3 separate regions of the Homo sapiens genome follow, and regions 2 and 3 are each linked to region 1. Evidence: fine-mapped expression QTL. A gene starts in region 1. Each other region holds a variant in brackets. All regions are shown on one strand. Distances are from middle to middle.

Region 1 (5,332 bases):
CAATAAAATCTAGTTAGTCCTGATGCTTCCTGAAGCAGGGCCCCTGGATTTGGCGTTGCTTTTTTGTGCCTCAGATTTTTTTTTTTTTTGAGGCAAGGTCTGGCTCTATTGCCCAGGCAGGAGTGCAGTGGTGTGGTCTCTACTCAGTGCAACCTCCACCTCCCAGGCTCAAGCGATCCTCCCCCCTCGGCCTCCCGAGTAGCTGGGATTACAGGTGCGTGCCACCATGCTCTGCTAATTTTTCTATTTTTTTTGTAGAGACAGGGTTTTGCCGTGTTGCCCAGGCTGGTCCTGAACTTGGGAGCTCAAATGATTTGCCCTCCTCAGCCTCCAAAGTGCTGTGATTACAGGCATGAGTCACCACACTCGGTCTGTGCCTTAGACTTTAGAGTCGGAAAGCTGGATTTGAATCCTGGCTTCACTACTACCAGCTGTATGGCACTGAACAAGTCACTTGGCCATGTAGAACCTCAGTTCTGCCACGTGTAAAATGGGGATATTATGTGTCTCCTTGGGTTGTCATGGGGTTGGATGAGAAGAATGCGAAGTGCAGGGCCTTGCACAGTTGGGCTCTGTGAGTCTTAGCAATGGCCATGACTGAGGCAGCGTGAGGGAGACTGGGAGAAAACCTCCTCAGTTTCCTTCTCCCAAATCTGTTGTCTTCCCCACTTTCTTTCCTGAAGCCAGGCGACAGGGGGGTGGTCCTGGCCCAGCCTCCTGGCTCCCTGGGGAAGGGCTGCCATTACTGGCAGTGTTAGATAATTTAGTAGAAAGTTGCCCTGCCCACCTCGCAGGCAAGGGACCGCCACCCAAATCCACCCAGACTGGGCCTCGTGTAGGTTTCCAGAAGCCACCCCTTTCTCATTGCCCTACTGCGCTCTGGCCAAGTCCCTGGGGCCCATTGCTGGACAGTGTGAGCGCAGAAAGAGCCAGCCCTACACAGTTTCCGATGTGTCTGATCTTGCCACCTACCGTGAACTGTTTTGTTATTACATCCATTTTCTAGATGAGGGACAGTAACAAGGGCTGAGTGGCCCTGAGCCCTTGGGCTCCACGCGCCCGCTGCCCAGGGCTGCCTCCGTTTGGGCTGGGACATGGGTCTGTGGGCTGGGAACAGGGCCTGCAGGCTGCCCCGCCGCTGGGAATCCGAGCGCTGGGTTTTCTCCTTCTGGGGTGGGGGCAGGGAGGAGACGGCTCAAGTGCAGGAATGAAGGTCCGCTTGCCTGGGGCTGTTTCTGCCCAAGTCCTCATCAGGAATCGTCAGGCCTGAGACAAACCCTCCCTCCTTCAGGAGTGCTCCGTTGGCCCCGGGGAAAGAGAGGTGATGGTCCGGGTTTCTGGGCCTTTGGGGTGCCACGGTGAGATTGGGACTAGAACCCCAGCCTCACTGGAGTGACCCCAGAAACCTTCCAGTCCAACCTCCTCACTTCAACTGAGGTTGGAACAACTGAGACCGGGTGGAAGTGACTTTTACACTCGCACAGTGCAACGGTAGCTACTCGGAATGAGAGACCTGTTCCGGCGCTCCTCCATTGCGCCCCTCGACTCGGCGGGACTTCTTCACCCAGGGCGCCACCGCTCCTCGGCACCGCAGGAAGGCGCAGGCCGGGCCCGGGGGAGTCGGGGAGAGCGGGGTAGGGCCCCGGAGGCTGGGGGAGGAGCCGGGGGAGGAGCGATGAGGCCGGGCCCTTTAAGAGGGCGGGCCGACTCCCCCCCACCCCCCACCCCGGGGCGGCGCAGGCGCAGGCGCAGGCGGGCTCGGGGCGCTCGGCAGGAGGGACGGCGGGCGGGCGCTCACCTGCGGGGGCCGGCGCGGGGCGGGCGCCCGGCGGGCCGACGTTGACGCCCGGAGGCGAGGGCGGGGAGGCGGGCGCGGGACTCGGGGGCGGCCCGGGGCGGGAGGGGAGGGCCGGGGCGGGCGGGCGGTGTGAGCGGGCGCCGAGGGCAGCACCATCTGGAGGGGTGGGAGCGCGCGGCCTCTGGGGGGCAAGCGAGTGCGCTGGGCCGAGCCGGTCGGGGGCCCCCGGCGGGTCGCGCAGGAGGAGCGCGGCGGGCTGAGCCCTGCGCTGCCGGAGCAGCAGCCGCAGCGCGTAGGGGTTCTCAGCTGGGGCCCGCAGCAGCTCCGCGGGCTGAAGCTCGGCGTGGAGGAGCGGGGCGGGGTGGGCCCGGCGGTGCAGGAGGAGGGCGGGGTGGGCCCGGGGCTGCAGGAGCGCGGCGGCCGCGGCCACGAGCCCAGCCGGGGGGTGGTGTGGGGGCCGCCGGACGGCGCGGGCTGGGGGCGCCCGCCGTGGTGGACGGGCTCGGCGGGCTGGCCTGTGGCGCAGGAGGAGGGGCTGGGGCCCCGCGGGCAGCACCAGGAGAAGGGCGGAGGCAGCCCCGCAGTGCAGGAGCGCGGCGAGGCCCGGGCCGGGGTGCAGGAGCGCGGGGAGGGGAGCCCGCGGAGGCTGCTGCAGCAGCCCGAACCGGCGTCCGAGTCCGGGGAAGGCCCCCGCGAGCGCAGGGAGGGGCCGGAAAGTTCCGGCGAACTGGGGGAGCGGCAGTGGGAGAGCGTCGGGCGGGAGGCGGTGGTCCTGGGAGCGGCCCCGGCGCCCCGAAGCCGCCCCGAGCTGGTGGGGAGGGCCCGGCCGGTGGGGCCCCGGGGGCCTGCGGGGGAGGGGCGCCTGGGGGTGCAAGAGGCGAATTGGCTGCCCGGGGTGCAGGAGGGACAGGTGGTGCGGGCTGTCCAGGAAACCTACCTGAACGGGAAGGAGCCCCAGGAGGGAGAGGGACCCGGCGAGGGGCTCAGGACCCGGAGGCGCCGGCGGAGGAGGAGGTGGTGACTGGCAGGCCCGGGCCCCACGGTACCTCCGGGGCTGAAGGGGACGCAGGATGTAGGGGCATGGGGAGTCGGGCGCAGAAGAGTGCGGGGAACCGCTGAGCTCTGGGAGCCACTGCCTGAGGGCAGGCCGCGGCCGGCGGGAACCTCTTCTGCCGTCTCAGCCTGGGCGTCGCTGAAGCTGTGTCTGCGGGGAGGCAGCGGAAGGCGGCAGGTAAGGAAGCCCAGTCCTGTTAGCTGGAGTTGGTGTGCTTGGAAGTGAGAGGCTGCAGGTCCCTGGCGAGAGCGTAGACTCCACACTGCCCTCGTTCTTTTGGCCTTTCATCCCTGGAGGGAGGAAGCAGTGCAGTTTTCAGCGGCAAGGCAGGACCTCTCCCCCGCCAGTACTGTGTATGGTAATTGGAGTGATAGGGCATCTTCTTAGAGTCTAGGCAGCAGGCGGGACGTCTGGGTGGCTGCCAGGTCTGTGCAGAGGGAAGAGAGGGGTAGCCCCAGGGAGGAGCTGCAGGACGGTCCCCCCTCCACCTGCCCCCCGATGGCAGTAGGGGTGCCTCCATGCTATATGCTCTGCATGGTGCAGTCAACACACAAGTCCTCAAAACACGTCCCACAGAAGGGAAGAGGGCAGCGTGGGATTAACAGAACCTTATCTTGTAACCCTGTTGGTCACGTGAGCTGAGATGAGTGTGACAGCTAGTGGCTTGGGTACGGCACGAGCCTGGCCCGCTTCTGCCACGCCGTCCTGTCACAGCTGATTTACCCTGAGGGCCCAGAGCCAAGGATGATTAGTGGGCGGAAGGAGGGAGAGCAACTGGTGAGCCCTCTCGTCTCTGGGTGGGACGACCCAGCGTTAGAGGGGCGGGAGAGGAGGGTGCACTTGCACCCCAGGGCTCTGGGCTGCCTCTGTGGCCCCACCCTGGGGAGGTTTGCAGATGGGCCGCTGTGGTATCATGGGCTCTGCACCTGTCAGGACAGGAGCTCCCAGCCCAGTCTAGAGGTAGGGCTTGTAGGGGCCAAGGGTGGGGGCTGTATTTGGCTTGTTGACTCCCTCGTGGCCTGAGTGCCAGACCTACTCATTCCGCCTCGTGCCCCCAGGGGGCTTGGCGGGCTGCTTGTGGGCCTTACTCTCCTAGAGCTGTTCGCCTCTTACCTGGCACTGTCAGGTGCTTGCTTCCCCTGCCCCTGGGTGGGGATGGGTGCAGGGTTGCTGCTTGCCCAGGGCCTTAGCTAGAGGACCCTCCTCTGCCCCAGCCCGAGGTGTGGCTGTGAGTCAGATGGACCCAGACCCCTGTCCCGAACCAGACTGGGTGCTCTCCTCTGGGGGCAGAGGGAGTGGTGCTGGAGGTAGCAGCTGCTGGAGGAGCCGGTTAGCCCGCTCCTCAGACAAACTCAAACCCGCCTGTCAGCTTCATCCCATGCCTGTCGCGCTGCCACCCAAACACTCATGCACCGGAAGTTCAGCTGCTGTGCCCACGGTGCCTGACGCTTCTGGAATGGCCAGAGTGGCTCTCACTGTCTGGCTTCAGTGGAGAGAACGGTCTGTTTTAAACACATACACACAATCTTCACCTACTTATTTCAGGTCGGCGTTTTTGAACTTGTGGTAGATGAATGGGAGAAAGGCCTTGGCATCACACAGATTGCTTTTGATCTGGTTATATCGCTTACAAGCTGTGTAACTTCCTTGGGCAACATAATGTCTTTAGGTTTCAGTTTCTTGGTGTCTGCGGTGGGCCAGGACTTCCCCTGCAGTGTCGTGAGTAAAGAAACCTCAGGCCCTTTGGAGCCTGGTGCCCACCTCCCCGGAGCCCCGGCAGATGTTAGGGAGGAAGGGTCAGACTGTTCCCTCTGGCCCCTGAGCCCGGGATTAGCCCCCACCTTGTGCTTCGTCTAGAAGATGCAGTGTTTCTTTTTGTTTGTTTTAAATAACAGTTTTATTGAGATATAATGACATATGGTAAACTGAGCATATTTAAAACACACAATTTAATAAGTTGTGGCCTGTGTATATACCCGTGAAACCACCCCCACCTTCAAGATAGTGAACATCCCCCTTATTCCCCTGTCCCCAGAAGTTTTCTTGTGGAACCCCTCCATCCCCCGCTCCTCTGCCATCCCCTACCCCAGGTAACAGGCTGGTCTACTTTCTGTCACTGTGTCTGAGTTTGCAGCATTTACTGTAAACGGAATCGCGTCTTTCATTCAACAGAAGTATTTTGGAGTTTGTCCAGGTGGTTGCGCGTATCAACAGTCATTGTACACGTGTGCCAAAGTCTGTTTATCCATTGACCTGTTGATGGGTTTTCAGAGAAAGCTGCTGTGAACGTGTTTGTTAGTCTTTGTGTGGATGTACACTTTTATTTATCTTAGGTAAATCCCTAGGACCGGAATGGCTGGGTCATGTGGTAGGTACACATTTAACCTTTAAGAAACTGCCAGACTGTTTTCCAAAGTGGTTGTACATTTTATATACTCATCCACTGTGTATGAGAGTTCTGGTTTGTCCATGTCTTTGAT
Region 2 (5,000 bases), 39 kb after region 1:
ACGCCTGGCGTTCACCGTGCCATCTCTGTCGCGCAGGGCCGAGAACTACTGGTGGCGTGGCCAGAACACACGGACGCTGTGTGTGGGGCCCTTCCCTCGCAACGTGGTGACCTCCGTGGCCGGCCTGTCGGCCCAGGACATCAGCCAGCCCCTGCAGAACAGCTTCATCCACACAGGGCATGGCGACAGTGACCCCCGCCACTGCTGGGGCTTCCCGGACAGGATTGACGAGTGAGTACTGGGCGGGGATGGATGCTGACCTGGCCCCGCTCGGGACTCCAGGGCCCTCAGCACGGCACGCGTGGGCGGAATCTGCTCTTCACCCTTTCGCCCGGGCTTCAGCCCCCGACCCGCCACTCTCCCCTCCTCACCCTGGCCTTACTCTCGGGAAGCTGTGGAACCCTAGGAAGCCCAGCCTGGTGGGGGTTCTCCAGGGGAATGTTCTCCAGGGGAGTGTTCTCCAGGGGAGGGTTCTCCAGGGGAGGGTTCTCCAGGGGAATGTTCTCCAGGGGAGGGTTCTCCAGGGGAGGGTTCTCCAGGGGAGGGTTCTCCAGGGGAATGTTCTCCAGGGGAGGGTTCTCCAGGGGAGGGTTCTCCGGGGAGCGTTCTCCAGGGGAATGCTGTCCCTGCCATTTTCAAGCTTTGGGGGGCCGATCTCCTAACTCTGAGACACTTCATCTGTGAAACAGGTTCACCCCCCCAATAAGGGGAAGGCTGTAAATGCACTCTGAATTAGCACTTGCTGCTCAGATGCAGGGGTCCTGAGAGAAGCTTTCCCACTCACTGTAGATGAAAGTAGGGTCAGGAGCTTCTGAGGATGGACTCCTGTTTGGTGGAAAGGTCCCCGGAGCCACAGCTGTAACCCCTCTTGGTACTCGGGCCTTAGGAAAATGAACTTGGGAGGAACCCGGTGGGAGCTGCTGAGGAGGAGAGCTTCTCCCATGACCCCCCTGTGGCCCCCTGTGACCCTGTGACCCTGTGACCCCTGCACACGAGCAGTGGTTTTCCTTCTCCTGCTGGTGGTGCCAGAGTCCTGGAGACGTGAACCTGCTGGCTCAGGCCCTGGGGATGTATGCAGGTCCACATGGGAGTGAGCCTGCTTTCCAGAACCAGAGTGGGACTGGGGACCTTGGGGACTGCAGAGGGAACGTTAGGTGGCAGCTCCGCCTCCCCACCACACAGTACTCTACGGAGCTCACTCCATACCTGGGAGAGGCCCTGTCTCCTATGTAAGAGGATAAGGCCACCGAGGGGCATCTGGGAAGGACACGCAGAATCAGTCACTTCCGGGATGCCACCCCCCACCCCCCGAAGCTTCTTGCGCCAGGCCTCCAAGCCTCTCTGCTGGCCGCAGGGGGATTCCAGGCCCCTGGCCTCTGCAGCCCTTCTCCTGCTGACTTCTGATACTCTGGTCTGCCCTGAGAGGCGTGGAAAGCAGGGGCCTTCACCCACCGGGCCCCACACACCAGAACCCCACACAGCGGGCCCCCACACACCAGAACCCACACAGCGGGCCCCCACACACCAGAACCCCACACAGCGAGTCCCCCCACACCAGAACCCACACAGCGGGCCCCCACACACCAGAACCCACACAGCGGGCCCACACACACTGGAACCCCAAGCTCACAGGGCTCAGCCCATGTGTTTTGCCTAAAAAGAACCCAGCAAGGGCCTGAGAGTTGGGGTGAAAGACTGCAGACACCTCCAGGAGAGGCTGGTGCCCTCTGCCCCACTCCTGGCATGCTGTGGCCAGCCCAGCCCCATTCCTCCAGGCTTTAATCAGCCCCAGTGACTAAGTCTCAGATACTGACAGTTGGTGCAGGGACGGAGGGTGGATCCGGAGCAGGACAGGTGGCCCAGCCTCTCCCGCACCTCCTGGCCATGTGGCAGAAGGGTGCCTCCTGCCCACCCTGGCTGGGCACCATAGCTGGGATGCCCCGTTCTTAGGCCCTCCATCGTGGCCTGCGGGACAGGAGTGTCTGCCCTCTGGCCGCTGCCTGGTGTGGGCTGGGGGCCTGGGGGGTTGTGGAGGACCACCTCTGCCCTTGTAGGGTGTAGTTGGAGTCCCTGAGGTCCTAGGCTTTCCATCCTGGGGTCAGGTGTCCTTTCTCTGCCTTCTCTCCAGGACACCCCCCAGCTGAGACGTGCGGTCAGGTTCTGTGGACTGGGAGGCGGGAGGCCTGTGCTTCAGACCCAAGACTACACCCGGTTTCCTCCAGGACGAAGGGGCTCTGATGAGATTCTGCCACCCCTCCACACGCTTCCCCTGCTCTCTTGACCCAGCTCTCTCCCCCACAGACTGTATCTGGGAAACCCCATGGACCCCCCCGACCTCCTGAGCGTGGAACTGAGCACCTCCCGGCCCCCCCAGCATCTAGGAGGGGTGAAAAGTAAGAGCCCCTCTGCTCCCTGGTGTCCCTAACTCATCGGCTACTCAGGAAGGGGCACTGTCTTCACAGGCCACCCT[A/G]AGGCTGCTGTTCTGTTTTTGGGGACAGTGGGGTCAGGGCAGCAGGCGGGACAGCTGTGTCCCTGGCTCCGGCTGGGCGTGGGGTGGAAGACAGGCAGCTGTATCCGCCGAGGTGGGCCTCCTCGGGCTGGGTCTGCAGCAGGCCCGTCCGCCCCGGCGTCCCTCCTCCCTCCTTCCACGGCCGAGCTCAGATCCTGGCTTTCCTCACTTCCCCCTAATCCTGCTCTCCTGTCCCAAGCCAAAACCACCCCACGGCTCCGGCTCTGCCTGGGGCCTCCTCCATCTCCCGGTCCTCTGCCTATCATACTGGACCGCCGTGTTCCTCATCCTGCCGCCTGCGGCCTCCCGTTTGCTGGGGGCTTGTACATTCACTCGCCCCCATTCACTTCTCTCCCTTCGTCTCTCTACACTCTGCCCTCTCGTCCGGCCGTCTCCCTCCTTTGTCCTCTGTCCTGCTCCGTCTCTCTCCCCCTGTCCGCATGGCCTTTCTTGCAGGGGAGCCTCCACCTCGCCCACCTCAGCCTGCCTTCTTCACTCAGAGTAAGTGGGGCTGCTTCCGATGCCTTGGCCCCCGCCCCCGCCCCCTCTCTCTCACTCCTCTCCTGGAAGGTACAGAGCCTGGGCGGCTGGGCCGGAGGGGAGGTGGGTGGGTGTGTGCTGTGAGCTTCCGCGGCTGCCCTGGCCTAGCATGCCTGCCCCCCCTCGAGCCCGCCCCCCGGAGCCTGGGCTTCTGCTCACGAGTGTGGCCCTGGCTTCCGCCTCGGCCTCACTCCCTCCCAGACCTGTCTGAGCTTCTGGAGCACGAGTGTGGCCCTGGCTTCTGCCTTGGCCTCGCTGCCTCCCAGACCTGCAGGCGCTGTCTGGGCTTTGTGGCCGTTGGTCAGGAGTACTGTCCTCTCCAAGGATAGTCCTTATAGCCCCTGATGGCAGGAGGCGGCTCCGTGCCTGCACTAATGGTGTGCCGTGACAGGGGCGGGGATGAGGGCTCACTAACTCGCCAGGGCGCAGGAGCAGGGCCGCCGGGGTCTTGTGCTGGTGGAGGCAGCGTCAGGCAGGAGCCAGTGTTGCTTGCTGCAGCTTAGACGGAGCGAGGCGGGGCTCACCGGCCCACATGGGGCTGCCGGGCAGAGCAGGTTCCGCCCTCCTGATGGAGTGGTCGGAGGTGCGCTGAGAACCTGGCCGCCGGTGGCTGACCTCAGACCTCGGGGGGAGTTGGGAGTGGAGGGTTGCTGGGGGACACTTGGCTTTCTCTCCCACGTGCCACCTCCCCTCGTGTCCCAGACCCTGCCTGACTGCCTTCCTGTTGGGCTCTCCCTTTCCATCACAGAACCAACCTATGACCCTGTGAGCGAGGACCAAGACCCCTTGTCCAGCGACTTCAAGAGGCTGGGCCTGCGGAAGCCAGGCCTGCCCCGAGGGCTGTGGCTGGCGAAGCCCTCGGCGCGGGTGCCGGGCACCAAGGCCAGCCGAGGCAGCGGGGCTGAGGTCACGCTCATCGACTTCGGTGAGGAGCCCGTGGTCCCGGCCCTACGGCCCTGCGCGCCCTCCCTGGCGCAGCTGGCCATGGACGCCTGCTCCCTGCTGGACGAGACCCCGCCTCAGAGCCCCACGCGGGCACTGCCCCGGCCCCTGCACCCCACGCCTGTGGTGGACTGGGACGCACGCCCGCTGCCCCCCCCGCCCGCCTATGACGACGTGGCCCAGGATGAGGATGACTTTGAGATCTGCTCCATCAACAGCACCCTCGTGGGCGCGGGGGTCCCTGCCGGGCCCAGCCAGGGCCAGACCAACTACGCCTTTGTGCCTGAGCAGGCGCGGCCGCCCCCTCCCCTGGAGGACAACCTGTTCCTCCCGCCCCAGGGTGGGGGCAAGCCGCCCAGCTCCGCACAGACCGCAGAGATCTTCCAGGCGCTACAGCAGGAGTGCATGAGGCAACTGCAGGCTCCGGCCGGCTCCCCGGCCCCCTCTCCCAGCCCGGGGGGTGACGACAAGCCCCAGGTGCCTCCTCGGGTACCCATCCCCCCTCGGCCCACGCGCCCACACGTCCAGCTGTCTCCAGCCCCCCCGGGCGAGGAGGAGACCAGCCAGTGGCCTGGACCTGCTTCCCCTCCCCGGGTGCCTCCGCGGGAGCCCCTGTCCCCTCAAGGCTCGAGGACACCCAGCCCCCTGGTACCACCTGGCAGCTCCCCGCTGCCACCCCGGCTCTCAAGCTCACCTGGGAAGACCATGCCCACCACCCAGAGCTTTGCCTCAGACCCCAAGTACGCCACCCCCCAGGTGATCCAGGCCCCTGGCCCGCGGGCTGGTCCCTGCATCCTGCCCATCGTCCGGGATGGCAAGAAGGTCAGCAGCACCCACTATTACTTGCTGCCCGAGCGACCATCCTACCTGGAGCGCTACCAGCGCTTCCTGCGTGAGGCCCAGAGCCCCGAGGAGCCTACCCCCCTGCCTGTGCCTCTGCTGCTGCCCCCACCCAGCACCCCAGCCCCCGCCGCCCCCACGGCCACCGTGCGGCCGATGCCCCAGGCTG
Region 3 (5,000 bases), 32 kb after region 1:
AACTGCCTCTCACCAATGGACTCCCTCCTCCCACGCCCCGTGCCTCCCCCCACTTCCCGTGCCTCCCACCACGCCCCGTGTCTCCTCTCACGCCCCGTATCTGTATGGCCTCAGGGAGAGCCCAGCAAAGAGACGGGGAGGGAAAAGCTGGGGCCTGCCCTCCTTCTCTAGCCCTTGCCACATCCACTTGTTCCGAGGCTCCAGACCTGGGAAGAAGGGACTGGGGCTCTGGAGAGGGCCCCTCCCAGGCAGGCAGATCCCTTCTTTGGAGGCCAGGCATGGCAGCAGCCGCTGCAGCTGTGGATGGGCTGGAGGGAAGGCGGGAAGTGAAGGGCTGGGCGCTCTGTTTGTCGTCAAACTCTGCACCTCCTCACCTTCAGATCCTGCATAAGATCGACAAGGAGGGGGAGCGGCTGCCCCGGCCCGAGGACTGTCCCCAGGACATCTACAACGTCATGGTCCAGTGCTGGGCTCACAAGCCAGAGGACAGACCCACGTTTGTGGCCCTGCGGGACTTCCTGCTGGAGGTGAGGGACAGGTCAGCCCAGGAGAGCTGGGGTGTTCAAGCTGAGGGGCTACCCAGGCGTCAGTCCCAGAGTTGGCCACGACCTTCCTCTTCCTCCAGGCCCAGCCCACAGACATGCGGGCCCTTCAGGACTTTGAGGAACCGGACAAGCTGCACATCCAGATGAATGATGTCATCACCGTCATCGAGGGAAGGTAGGGAGTGCAGGGCTGGGCCCCGCCCTGGGATCGCTTGAAGGGCACAGGTCGGAGGGACCTGTGGACAGATCTGTTTGGCCTCCAAGATTCCCTTGGCCACATACAGGCTGGCGGTTGGGCCTGAACCCTGCAGTGTGAGGGGAGGACAGGCCTGCCTCCGTCTTCCTAGTGCCTTTCCCTGCCCAGCTTCCCTCCACCACCCTTTCCCACTGGGCTGCAGCCCTGGCTGTGTGGTTGGGCCAGGCTGCCTTTATGGAGGGGTAGGGAGTGGCCTGGCCTCGGTGGCAGCAGAGTTCTGGACTCCCGTGCTTCCTCCTCTGCTCCTCCCCGCTTCTCTCCCTGCTTCTTCCTGGCACAGGGACTCAGCCATCCACCTGGGTGCGTTTCAGTAGCTGAAGCAGCCCAGCCTGCCCTCTTGCAGCTTTCCATCCTTCCTGCTGAGCCCACCACCCCCTCCCAGGCCTGCCTCCAGCCTCTGGTCCTCTCTTCCCATCTCCCCTTGGGAGGACCCTCTCTATACCTAACCCTCCTCCCACAGCCTCTCGGGAGTCCCTGTCTTCCACCTGAGCCCCCGCAGTTCTAGCGCCTGCCCTGAGGCCCCACCACTGCTGGCCCTGCCTTGTGCTGGCTGATCCCCAGGGTGTCTGAGCAACTGGCTGGGGCAGGGCAGGTTTCAGGTACCTTTGAGGCAGGGGCAGTATTGAGGACCAGGAAGAAGAGTGAAGTGGAGGAAATCCCCTGTGCTCGCAGCTCCTGACTCAGGCCAGGCAAGGATGGGGCTAGGGCTGCTTCCCAGGGAGCCTCTTCCACCTGCACTGCAGCTTTTGGAGTCTGCGGCCTTCGGTGCAATCCTGTGCCTCTTGGGGGTGGGTGGAGGAGACCTGGGGGGCTGTGTGGAGTGTGACCTGCACCGCTGTGGCCCCGACACCCCGAGCCTTCCCAGGCCCGGCTCCCTCACCCTTGGGCCCAGGGTCTGGGAATAGGAATGACATACTGAGACTGCAGGGCCTGTGGTTAGGGGTGTTATGCTGGGGAAGAATGCAGAAGGTTCTAGAAAGAGAGGCCTGGGGACAGGAGGCAAACAGTCTGCAGGTTTGGAGCTGAGGGGCCAGGGATGGGATTGCAAGCGTGGCGCTCCGGGGAGCATTCTGGAAATAGGAAGATTAAGGGTGGGGGGGTCCCCTGGAAGTACCTGGCAGGGCCTCCAGCCCGAAGTCCAGCCTCATGACCGTGTCCACCTCCACGAGCTGGAAAGCCGTGGGCCTGGCCCCTCTTGTGCTGCTGCCGGAGCCCCAGATCTTTACCACCTGCTTCCCTTGCTCTCAGCAGGAGCCTGTGTGCCTGCCAGTGTCCCCAGGGGTGACTCAGAGTGGCCTGTGTTTGGGGCGTGTGTCTCTGGAGCTGGTGTTTTAGGTCACCGCCCGGGCAAGGCGGGCAGTGGGAGGGGCCGGGAGCGGCTGCTCCTGGG[A/C]GGGTTGTGGGTGTGCCCCGCCCCGCCCTTCCGTCGAAGGCCCCCGTTGGCCCCAGCCGCTGGTTCCCTGTGGCTGCTGCTGGTGGGGCTCTGGGGGCTCCTTCCCCCTGGGCCACCAGCCCTGGCTTGGAACCACAGCACCTGCCCTCCGTGCCTGGAGCTGCTCAGGAGGTGGGAGGTGAGGGGCAGGAGGCCACAACAGCCGGTGAGGCTTGGGAGCGGGCCTGGGTGTCGGTGGTGGCAGAGCTTGACTCTGCCCCCTTGTTTCTTCAGTCCCTGAATATCTCCATGTTTGTTTGGCTGCCTCCGTCTCCATGTCTCCAGGCGGATGGCTCTGTGTGAGTCTTTGGGCCTGGGTGTGCATCTGTGGGTCTGTGTTTGGAGTTCCCTCCTAGCCTGGCCTTCTCTTCGCCGTGGCTTCCCACTTGCGAAGCTGTGTCCAGTATTTGTTTCCTGGTGCGGAGTCTGGGAGGCCACCTGCCGCAGCTCTGACTGAGTCTAGGCTCAGTCCTTCTCAGGGTACCAGGCTGTGGGCAGAGGGGAGACACCTAGATGTTTCGTGCTGTGTCTAGATTTGGAGACACAAATGATGACTGGTCTTTCCCAGGGGCTCGTTTGGAGGAAGGGGTGGCTGGCAGCACTTTTGTTCCGCATACAGAGCGGGTGTTGGAATCCATTGCGGGTCCTTGGCCTGGTCTGGCCCTGGAGCCTCGGCTTCCTGTGGTGGGTGGGAGCCAGGCATCCGGGTTATCCCTCCAGGCCTGGGCGCCTGGGACCCCTAGGGAGAAGAGCGGGCGGGCGTTTTGAACAGAATGTCCGGCATTAGTTGAGCCATTTCTGGACTACCTTCGGCCCGGACGGGAACGTGGTGCTGAGATTTCCAGAGCTGGGGCAGCCTTAGGCAGTTCTCAGCACCGGCCTCTGTTTTCCATCTTGTCTACCCCAGAGATGTTGACCAGAGGCCCGGGGGCAGCAGGAGGTAGAAGGTTCATGCGGAGGTGTTGGGCCCTTTTCCTGCTCCCCCAGGAAGTCCTCATCCGCCCCTGCTTCAGTCACGGCCGGGTAGCAGCCCTGGCCCTCCCATGGCCACGGGGACTCCGGCCTGTTCATGGCGGGAGAGAGAGGGCGCGGACAGGGCGGGCCTGGAAGGAAGGGCTGGCCTCAGTCCCCTCTGGACTGCTGGTGCCTCGGCCACACTGAGCCTCACACGGGTGCGTGTGGGCTGCGAGAAGTGACACGGTCCTCTTGGAAGTCCCACTGGAGCCTTGGGATGAAGCTGCCTTGGAGTGTGCGTGGGCGCCATCCCGAGGGGGAGCTTCCTGTGCCTCCGAGCGTGCGTGGGCGCCATCCCGAGGGGGAGCTTCTTGTGCCTCGGAGCGTGCGTGGGCGCCATCCCGAGGGGGAGTTTCTTGTGCCTCGGAGCGTGCGTGGGCGCCATCCCGAGGGGGAGTTTCTTGTGCCTCGGAGCGTGCGTGGGCGCCATCCCGAGGGGAGCTTCGTGTGCCTCGGAGCGTGCGTGGGCGCCATCCCGAGGGGAGCTTCCTGTGCCTCGGAGCGTGCGTGGGCGCCATCCCGAGGGGGAGTTTCTTGTGCCTCGGAGCGTGCGTGGGCGCCATCCCGAGGGGAGCTTCTTGTGCCTCGGAGTGTGCGTGGGCGCCATCCCGAGGGGAGCTTCTTGTGCCTCGGAGTGTGCGTGGGCGCCATCCCGAGGGGGAGCTTCCTGTGCCTCCGAGCGTGCGTGGGCGCCATCCCGAGGGGGAGTTTCTTGTGCCTCGGAGCGTGCGTGGGCGCCATCCCGAGGGGAGCTTCTTGTGCCTCGGAGTGTGCGTGGGCGCCATCCCGAGGGGAGCTTCTTGTGCCTCGGAGCGTGCGTGGGCGCCATCCCGAGGGGGAGTTTCTTGTGCCTCGGAGCGTGCGTGGGCGCCATCCCGAGGGGAGCTTCTTGTGCCTCGGAGTGTGCGTGGGCGCCATCCCGAGGGGAGCTTCCTGTGCCTCGGAGCGTGCGTGGGCGCCATCCCGAGGGGAGCTTCCTGTGCCTCGGAGCGTGCGTGGGCGCCATCCCGAGGGAGAGTTTCTTGTGCCTCGGAGCGTGCGTGGGCGCCATCCCGAGGGGAGCTTCTTGTGCCTCGGAGTGTGCGTGGGCGCCATCCCGAGGGGAGCTTCTTGTGCCTCGGAGTGTGCGTGGGCGCCATCCCGAGGGGGAGCTTCTTGTGCCTCGGAGCGTGCGTGGGCGCCATCCCGAGGGGGAGTTTCTTGTGCCTCGGAGTGTGCGTGGGCGCCATCCCGAGGGGAGCTTCTTGCACACGTCCTCCGCACTCTTACTCTCCTTCCCCCAGGAGCAAGCATGTTTTCTCGAGTGGTGTCAGGACTCCCAGCAGCCATGGGGGCTCTTGCCTCGGCCATACCTGCACTAAGGGAGGTGGGCTTGATGTCTCCTTTCCCTCTCAGAAGTGGGTCCCAAAGGAGGCTTCTGTGCCTGGAGCTGGGCAGTGTTGGCGGAAGGGAGAGGCCAGACGGAGTGACCTGCCTTGGGCACGAGTCACGCTGCTCTGAGCAAGGTCTCGGCCTCAGCGGCATTCTCACCCAGTTACTGAGCGCCTCTGAAGAGGTGTGGAGAGCAGAGTCCGGCGTCTGGCCCGCGGCAGCCACCGGGGAGCCCGTGGGTGTAGCGGGAGAGCCGCAGCCCAGCCGGTGCCGGGGTTCCTCCTCTACGGGCCGCCGTGGGAGGCTGTGTGCGTGCTGGGGAGCCGGGGCTCTGCTCCTTCGAGTGGCCCTGCTATTTTTCAGATGGGACTCGTCTCGTCTCGGG

The links. PIP is the estimated chance that this variant, and not a neighbour inherited with it, causes the effect.
Region 2: its variant is fine-mapped to the expression of TNK2 in thyroid (GTEx, PIP above 0.99). The same link has a PIP of 0.9 or more in adrenal gland, blood mononuclear cells, cerebellum, lung, naive CD4 T cells and pituitary.
Region 3: its variant is fine-mapped to the expression of TNK2 in nasal epithelium (TOPMed, PIP 0.99).

What each region holds. Positions count from the first base shown.
Region 1 is chr3:195,906,182-195,911,513 of GRCh38, reverse strand. TNK2 (tyrosine kinase non receptor 2) reads left to right here and starts at 2,963. Exons shown (of 16, transcript NM_001382273.1): 1 at 2,963-3,029. It overlaps TNK2-AS1 (TNK2 antisense RNA 1), which reads right to left and starts at 3,438. Exons shown (of 2, transcript NR_145450.1): 1 at 2,736-3,438; 2 at 1-1,649. RefSeq lists enhancers at 1,380-1,429, 4,420-4,649, 4,700-4,749 and silencers at 1,560-2,209, 2,260-2,449, 2,500-2,749.
Region 2 is chr3:195,867,507-195,872,506 of GRCh38, reverse strand. It overlaps TNK2 (tyrosine kinase non receptor 2), which reads left to right. Exons shown (of 16, transcript NM_001382273.1): 10 at 37-231; 11 at 2,302-2,393; 12 at 2,966-3,010; 13 at 3,798-5,000. Among named protein-coding and RNA genes, the nearest start is that of LINC01983, 9.6 kb to the right of the region's middle. The variant A/G (reference allele first, on the strand shown) is at 2,471.
Region 3 is chr3:195,873,973-195,878,972 of GRCh38, reverse strand. It overlaps TNK2 (tyrosine kinase non receptor 2), which reads left to right. Exons shown (of 16, transcript NM_001382273.1): 8 at 381-527; 9 at 626-720. Among named protein-coding and RNA genes, the nearest start is that of MIR6829, 5.9 kb to the left of the region's middle. RefSeq lists an enhancer at 891-1,445. The variant A/C (reference allele first, on the strand shown) is at 2,192.